2 linked regions of the Homo sapiens genome follow. The gene in region 2 interacts genetically with the main gene of each other region. Each region holds a gene or a part of one and is shown on either strand. Other genes may lie near its edges.

The links.
Region 1: changes in BOD1L1 (region 2) and SCYL1 together harm fitness more than expected from each alone (negative genetic interaction), as found in Homo sapiens cells (one large-scale study listed by BioGRID).

The regions. Positions count from the first base shown.
Region 1 is NC_000011.10:65,528,083-65,531,582, reverse strand, and holds part of SCYL1 (N-terminal kinase-like protein), read right to left. Parts: intron 955-3,500; coding exon 796-954; intron 8-795; coding exon 1-7. UniProt on the Homo sapiens protein: Regulates COPI-mediated retrograde protein traffic at the interface between the Golgi apparatus and the endoplasmic reticulum. Involved in the maintenance of the Golgi apparatus morphology.
Region 2 is NC_000004.12:13,621,226-13,624,725, reverse strand, and holds part of BOD1L1 (biorientation of chromosomes in cell division protein 1-like 1), read left to right. Parts: intron 1-3,500. UniProt on the Homo sapiens protein: Component of the fork protection machinery required to protect stalled/damaged replication forks from uncontrolled DNA2-dependent resection.

The DNA of each region.
Region 1 (3,500 bases), on a different chromosome or scaffold from region 2:
TGCCCACCTGAAAGGGCAGGAAGATGGGTTCAGCTGCTCACAGGAATGGGCTGACTTTGCTGGGCTTATCTAAATTCCTGGGGCTGATATCCCAGGGTGGGAATGAAGTGATGGCGGAGGGGGGGGCAGGCATTTCCTCAGTAGCTCCTCTACCCATATTCCATCTCAGCCTTGCCCTTAACCTTTCTGGGCCAAGGCCTCTTTCAGGAGGCTGATGAAAGCTCTGGGCCCCTCCCTACAAACAGGTACCTTTATGCCATATGCAGAAATTCTGCCTGCAATTTCTGGGGGTTCTCAGCTATACAGGACTTGCTTGTTGTCTTCTCCCCTCCTGACAAGTCTTTCAGATGAAAGGGTTCTCCCCAAGGTGAGGAGGGCAGGGAATGCCAGGTGCCCATAAAAAGGCGGGCTGGGGTCTGAGGAAAGGGTGGAAGATCCAGCCCCCAGAAGTCAGGTGAGCTGAGTGCTAAGCAGTCAGGAGGGAGGAGGGCAAAGTGGGGTGGTGAGTAGGTAATCCCCTGGGCCCTGGGAACCAAGGTGCACAGGTCAGACCCGGAGAAATGGAGGAAGGGCTGAGGGTTGTGAAGCCAGAGGTTTGTGGAAAAAAGGATTTTAGCGGCAGAGTCTCTCCTCCCCAGGGGACAGCTGGTCAGGTACCTGTTTATAGACACTGGCAGGAAGCTCCTGCTCATATGGGCTTGGGTCTGCCCTAAACAGCCTGCCCTACCCCAGGGCCTTCTCTTTGGCAGTTCCTGTGCACCCAGCCAGCCTTCTGGACCCCACAGTTCCACTCACCTTGAAGAGGGGCGTGAGGACAACGGCCCCAGCATTGCCGAACTCGAAGGCGGTCAGCAGCTGGGGCAGCACCTTGTGCCGACAGAAATCCTCAGGGAATGCGTCCAGGCTCTTGCTCAGCTCCTGGAAGAATTTTTGCTTCTCGGCTGGCTCTTTGATCTGGGGGAGTGAGGACGGGACCCGGGGAAGAGATCAGCCTGGTTGCAGCCCAAACCCAGCCATGGGTGAGGACAAGGAGAAGTGATGCTTATGGGCCTTATGGGCTCTGGAGCCTGGCTGCCTGGGTTCAAAGCCCAACTGTCCCACTTACCTGCCATGTAAAATGGGATAACAGCTCTACCATCTACGGGATAGTTCTGGGATTCAACCAGAAAATGCACATAAAAGCTGCAGAACAGGCTGGCACACGGCAGATGCTCGGTGGGTTAGGGACTGTTGCTGCCATTGCGGCTACCTGACCTGTTGCTGGGAGAGCAGCCACTAGGGACAGCAGAGGCATCACTAAGGGCATCAGGCCCTTTATCAGTGTTGCCTCTACTGCTCGCCACCCAGGATGTGAGCACAGAGGAGGAAACTGAAGATCAAAGAGGTGAAGGGGCTTACTTGGTTTCCCTGCCCTGGCTGGATTGGGCAGGAAGTTCCTGGTAGGCCGTGGGAAGGCAAGGATTAGGTACACTTTACTCCCAGACCTCATCCTCCCACTGAGCCAAAATGGACCAGCCTGTAAGCTCAACGGTCTCCTTTAGTCCTCCTAACCCCCCTTTGAGGCCATAATACCCCCAATTCATATTTCTGGAGCACAGATTATGTGCTAAAACCTTTACACAGATTATCTCAGTCCTCTTCACAACTTTACCAGGTAGGTGCTAATGTAATCCACATTTTACCAACAAGGAAGCTGAGGCACAGAGAGGGCAAGGAGCTTGTCCAAAGTCACACAGCTAAGAAGCGGTCAGAGGAGGGTCTGACTCACTGGTTTGGCACCTCTCCTGTGCTGTACCCTTCAAAAGATGCTGTCACTCCCCCCATTCACAAAGGAGGAGACAGAGGGTCAAGGTCAGCAGCCAAGAGTGGCCAGGCAGGGGTCATGACCCAGTGTTGTGTTCCAAAGTCCCTGTGCTCTCTGTTGTACCACCACCCCCATAGCCGCGGCTTGGCCGGGGAGAGGCGACCTCTGGCTTGGGACAAAGAGGACCTAGATGGCCCTTGAGCAGCTCAGACCAGCGTGGGAGGCCGGCTTGGTGCTCTGATCACATGGTTCAGCGGGGCCAAGGCCCAGAGAGGCTAAATCACATCCAAGGTCATACATCAAGAGAGTAGCAGCTGGGTTCTCCCCACCACTCCACCTAACAATGGGAAGAGGGGCCCCTGGGCACTGCCCTCCCATGTTCTCCTGGAGGCTCCCGAAACCCTATTTCCTATGGGGTACACTTTAAGGAGAAGGGTAGCTTGGCAGAGCCAGCCGTACGAGGAGAACTCCACGTAACAAAGTTCCTGCTGCCCCGACACTGCCCAGGAGGCAACGGGGTCTCAGCGTTTCCAGCAGCTTCTCCTTCCAGGTTTCCACCCTCCAAAGGCCCTCCCCGCCCCACAGCATCTGAGTCAAGATTCCATGACCTCTGCTGGGTCAGGGTCTGTGGAGTGTCTGCCACTCTCCTCCCCTGCTCCTGATTCTGATTCTCAGCCCCCGCTGTCTTCCCCACACACGGCTGGGGCCGGGCATTGCATAGAGCAGAGCCTTCCTCCCTCCTCCCTACAGCAACCCTGCAGGCCAGTGCACCCAGATGCTCCTCACTATACACATGTGGAAACCAAGGTTCAGAGGCAAAGCAGAGGGCTCCCTCCTCAGTATCTCTCCACGTGCTGTCGCCTCTGCCTGGAACTCTTACTCCAGGTACCATCCCTCTGGCTCCCACAGTCATGTCCTTCAGGCCCCAGCTCCAATGTCACACTTCAGAGAGCCCATCCCTGAATACCCACTCCAGTACTTTCCTTCCTGCACTGGATTTTTCTTTTCTTTTTTTTTAAGACTGAGTTTTGCTCTTGTTGCCCAGGCTGGAGTGCAATGGTGCGATCTCGGCTCACTGCAACCTCCTGCCTCCCAGGTTCAAGCTATTCTCCCGCCTCAGCCTCTGGAGTAGCTGGGATTACAGGTATGCGCCACCATGCCTGGCTAGTTTTTTGTATTTTTAGTAGAGACGGGGTTTCTCCATGTTGGTCAGGCTGGTCTCAAACTCCTGACCTCAAATAATCCGCCAGCCCCGGCCTCCCAAAGTGCTGGGTTTACAGGCGGGAGCCACCGCACTGGCTGGTTTTCTTATTTATGGTGTTCTTTTGTTTGTTTTGAGACGGAGATTTGCTCTTGTTGCCCAGGCTAGAATGCAATGGCACAATCTTGGCTCACTGCAACCTCCACCTCCCAGGTTCAAGCGATTTTCCTGCCCCAGCCTTCCTGAGTAGCCGGGATTACAGGCATGTGCCACCACTCCCGGCTAATTTTTGTACTTTTAGTAGAGATGGGGTTTCTCCATGTCGTCAGCTGGTATCGAACTCCCGACCTCAGGTGATCCACCCGCCTCAGCCTCCCAAAGTGCTGGGATTACAGGCGTGAGCCACTGCACCTGGCTCTTATTTATGGTTTTTATGTTTTCTGTCTCTTCCCCAGCAAGAGTTCCCAAGGTTGGGGATCTGGTCTGTTTACTTTT
Region 2 (3,500 bases):
CAAAGTCTGCTGCTACACCAGAAGACCACAGAACCCTGGTCTTCTGGGAGGCCGAGGTGGGTGGATCATTAGAGGTCAGGAGTTCGAGGCCAACCTGACCAAAATGGTGAAACCCCATCTCTAGTAAAAATACAAAAAAAGTAGCCATGTATGGTGGCACATGCCTGTAGTCCCAGCTACTCGGGAGGCTGAGGCAGGAGAATTGCTTGAAGCCAGGAGACAGAGGTTGCAGTTAGCCGAGATTGTGCCAGTGCACTCCAGCCTGGGAGACAGAACAAGACTTGGTCTAAAAAACAAAAATTTTTAAAAAGCAACAATACACATTTTTCAATACAGTTGCATATACTATTTAATAATTATGAAAATTTCTAATATTTCTGTTGCTTTGAGAAATTAGAACTGAAATGACACCCTCCCAGACAAAAAAGAACACTCAGCTATGGTTGAAGTTCTGGTGCTCAGACGCTAGCTTAAACTCTCCCACAAAATCTCTCTCTCTCTCCCCCTCCCTGCCACTAACCTCTGTACCTGCTCCTGGTTATGTTACAGGTTATGTTCTGGTACTTCCTTTACCCCATGACTCTCTCCTTCTCTTCTACTCCCTTAGTTAGCAATTAGGTAGATTTTAATTTGATTTAAAAGATTTGTTCTCATTGAATACCATTTTATACTTCATTTTCTTATTTGAAAAAAAAAAAAATATATTCCCCCCTGCTTCCCAAAAAGCCAAAGTTTTCTTCATCAGAACATAACATTCATATCAATATGATGAGTGGGCCAAAGTAGAAGATTCCCTGTTCATGCAAAGAACCATCACTTTAATGGAATCCTTGAGTTTCATCTGCCACTTGAACCTCAAAGACTGACCTGCTTTCTGTCAAAAAGTCTTAACTTGTAGCATATAGAGTTATAGTGGATTATGTCTGTCACATGCATATTTAAGAATGAAGACATTTGATACCTGCCAGGTGCTAAGAGCAAAACTGTCATCCAGTTTAGTGTGTTTAAACCAGGATGAGAAGTACCAAAGTCTGCTGCTACACCAGAAGACCATAGAACCCCCCTCCAAACTGTCCAGGGTCATTGATAGTCCTTAACCAGGAGAGAGATCTGACTGTAACAGACCAAATCAGCCCTTCCCACCCAAAGAAATGGAACCATGGGCAACCCTAAGCTCCAACTACTGCAAAGACTCCTCCGTTATAGACTACCAGTTTCCAGATCTCTGGAGCAAGCTTAGTGGTTACAAAGCCATTCTGTCTCCTTTGCACTGATTAGCATCTGGAGCGTGTGAGGAGGGATGATCAAGAGGCCCTTCAGGGAGCTCGCCAGCCAGGTAAATATGGTACCTCTCTTGTCAAGTAAGAAAGTCTGATTTTTTGGACACTTTCTTAGTTATAAATGGCCCCTGGTCAATTTATTCACCCAACAAACATTCATTGAGCAACTCTTATGTACCAGTCATTTTTTTAGGTGCCAGGGATACAGCAGTGAACCAAACATCCCACTGTTATGGAGCTTACATCCTAGTAGAAAAAAAAAATAGACAACAAGTAATGTATGGTAGGTCCTATGGAAAAAAGCAAGATGAGGGATGGATGGGCTTACTGTTTTATTTCGAATAAGCTGTTCAGGGTAGGTTTCAATGTGATGATACTTGAGCCATCTGTGAAGGAATTGAAGGGGCAATGCAGCTGTCTGGGGCTTGAGCATTCCAAGAAGAGAGCATAGCAAGTATAGAAGAGCTGAGACAGACCCACTAAGGGGAAAGTGACAAGAGGTGAGGTAGGTATGCCTTCACAGATCTGGCAGGTCTTGGGAGCCATCAGAAGACCTTGGCTTTTACTCGAGCTCAGAAGCCATTGGCAGGTTTTGAGCAAAAGAAGGACATGATCTGACTTCCATTTCAGATGGGTTGACCACGTGTAATAGCTTCCCCTTTCTTGCTAAGTTGTGATTTGAATGGGTCAATAAATTACATGGTTACCTGATTTTTAGAAGACAACTTTGTTGTAGGTAAGGATAGAATTCTGCATGAGGCCAGTTGTTATAATTCAGACAGATGAGAATGCCTTGGAACAGATTGAGGTCAGTAAAGGTAGTGGGAAGTGGTCAGATTCTGGGTGTATTTTCATGCTACTGTTGAGAGAATTTGCTAATAGTATGCATGTGAAGTAGAAGACAAAGGGAGGACTCAAGGATAACTCTAAGGCTTTTCACCAAAGCACTGGAAAAGGAAGAAAGGGTGGAAGTATGTGTAATATATGTGTGTGTGTATATATGTGTACATGTGGGTACATACATGTTCCTAGGAGAATACTTCTCAATGAATACTTAATATTTCTCTAGTTGCTCAACTTTTTACTGAAAGGAGAGCTTGAAAACAAGGAAAATTACCTGTTGAGTAGTTCAGATTTGAACTTGTTCTGGGAAGACTAGACTAGAATGCCAAATGCATTGTGATGTTAGAGCCTAATGAATGTGTGTTAGATTTGGGAATACCGGAAAGAAGAATTAGGCTTTAGAATCATTGGGGAGAAAGAATTAAGAATTAGTTTTAGGGCTGGGTATGGTGGCTGACACCTGTAATCCCAGCACTTTGGGAGGCCGAGAAAGGTGGATCACTTGAGGTTAGGAGTTCAAGACCAACATGGCCAATATAGCAAGACCTTGTCTCCACTAAAAATACAAAAATTAGCCAGGTGTGGTGGCGCATGCCTGTAGTCCCAGCTACTCAGGAGCCTGAGGCACTAGAATCACTGGAACCCGGCAGGTGGAGGTTCCAGTGAGCCGAGATCACACCACTGTACTCTAGCATGGGCAATCGAGCAAGACTCTGCCAAAAAAAAAAAAAAAAAAGAATTAATTTTAGTTCATATCGATTTTGGATAAATGGACAGGCACATAGGAAATGATCATGTAGGACAGGAAATAAGTATCAGCAAAGGCCTGAAAATTGGAACTGATGAAAGGGCATCAGAGGGATAAAATGTTTGTCATTCTGTGTTAGAGATAGTTACCCATTCAGCTAACAAGTATATTTTAATTGCTCATTTGCCAAGCAGTGTGATAGGCTATATGAAAACAAATTGTAAGAGAGATAGAGGAGGAGGCTTACACATCAATGGAGGATAAATATGCCTTGCTTCCGAAAATACAATGTAGTGCAAGAATTGCTCGAATGGTAGCATGTATAGAAAACAGTAGGAGCGTGGATGAAGAGCCCATAAGCCTACCTTCGGTGTCAAGATGATTTCACAGATTAGGGTGAGCTCTGAAGGTGAGAAGTTTGTCAGATGGACAACCAGAGGGAATGGTAGTTGCAGGATGGTAGGTGCAGATATGAGAATTTCTCACTGGAGTGTAAACTTTGAAGCTAAAAGGAGGCAAATGGCAGAAGGTGAGGCTATACAGTGCTTGCTTAATATCAGTCAGGGACACTCAAACTCATCCACATTAAAAGCTGTATAGAAGAAAGGTAGAAAGAACATCAGTGTTGG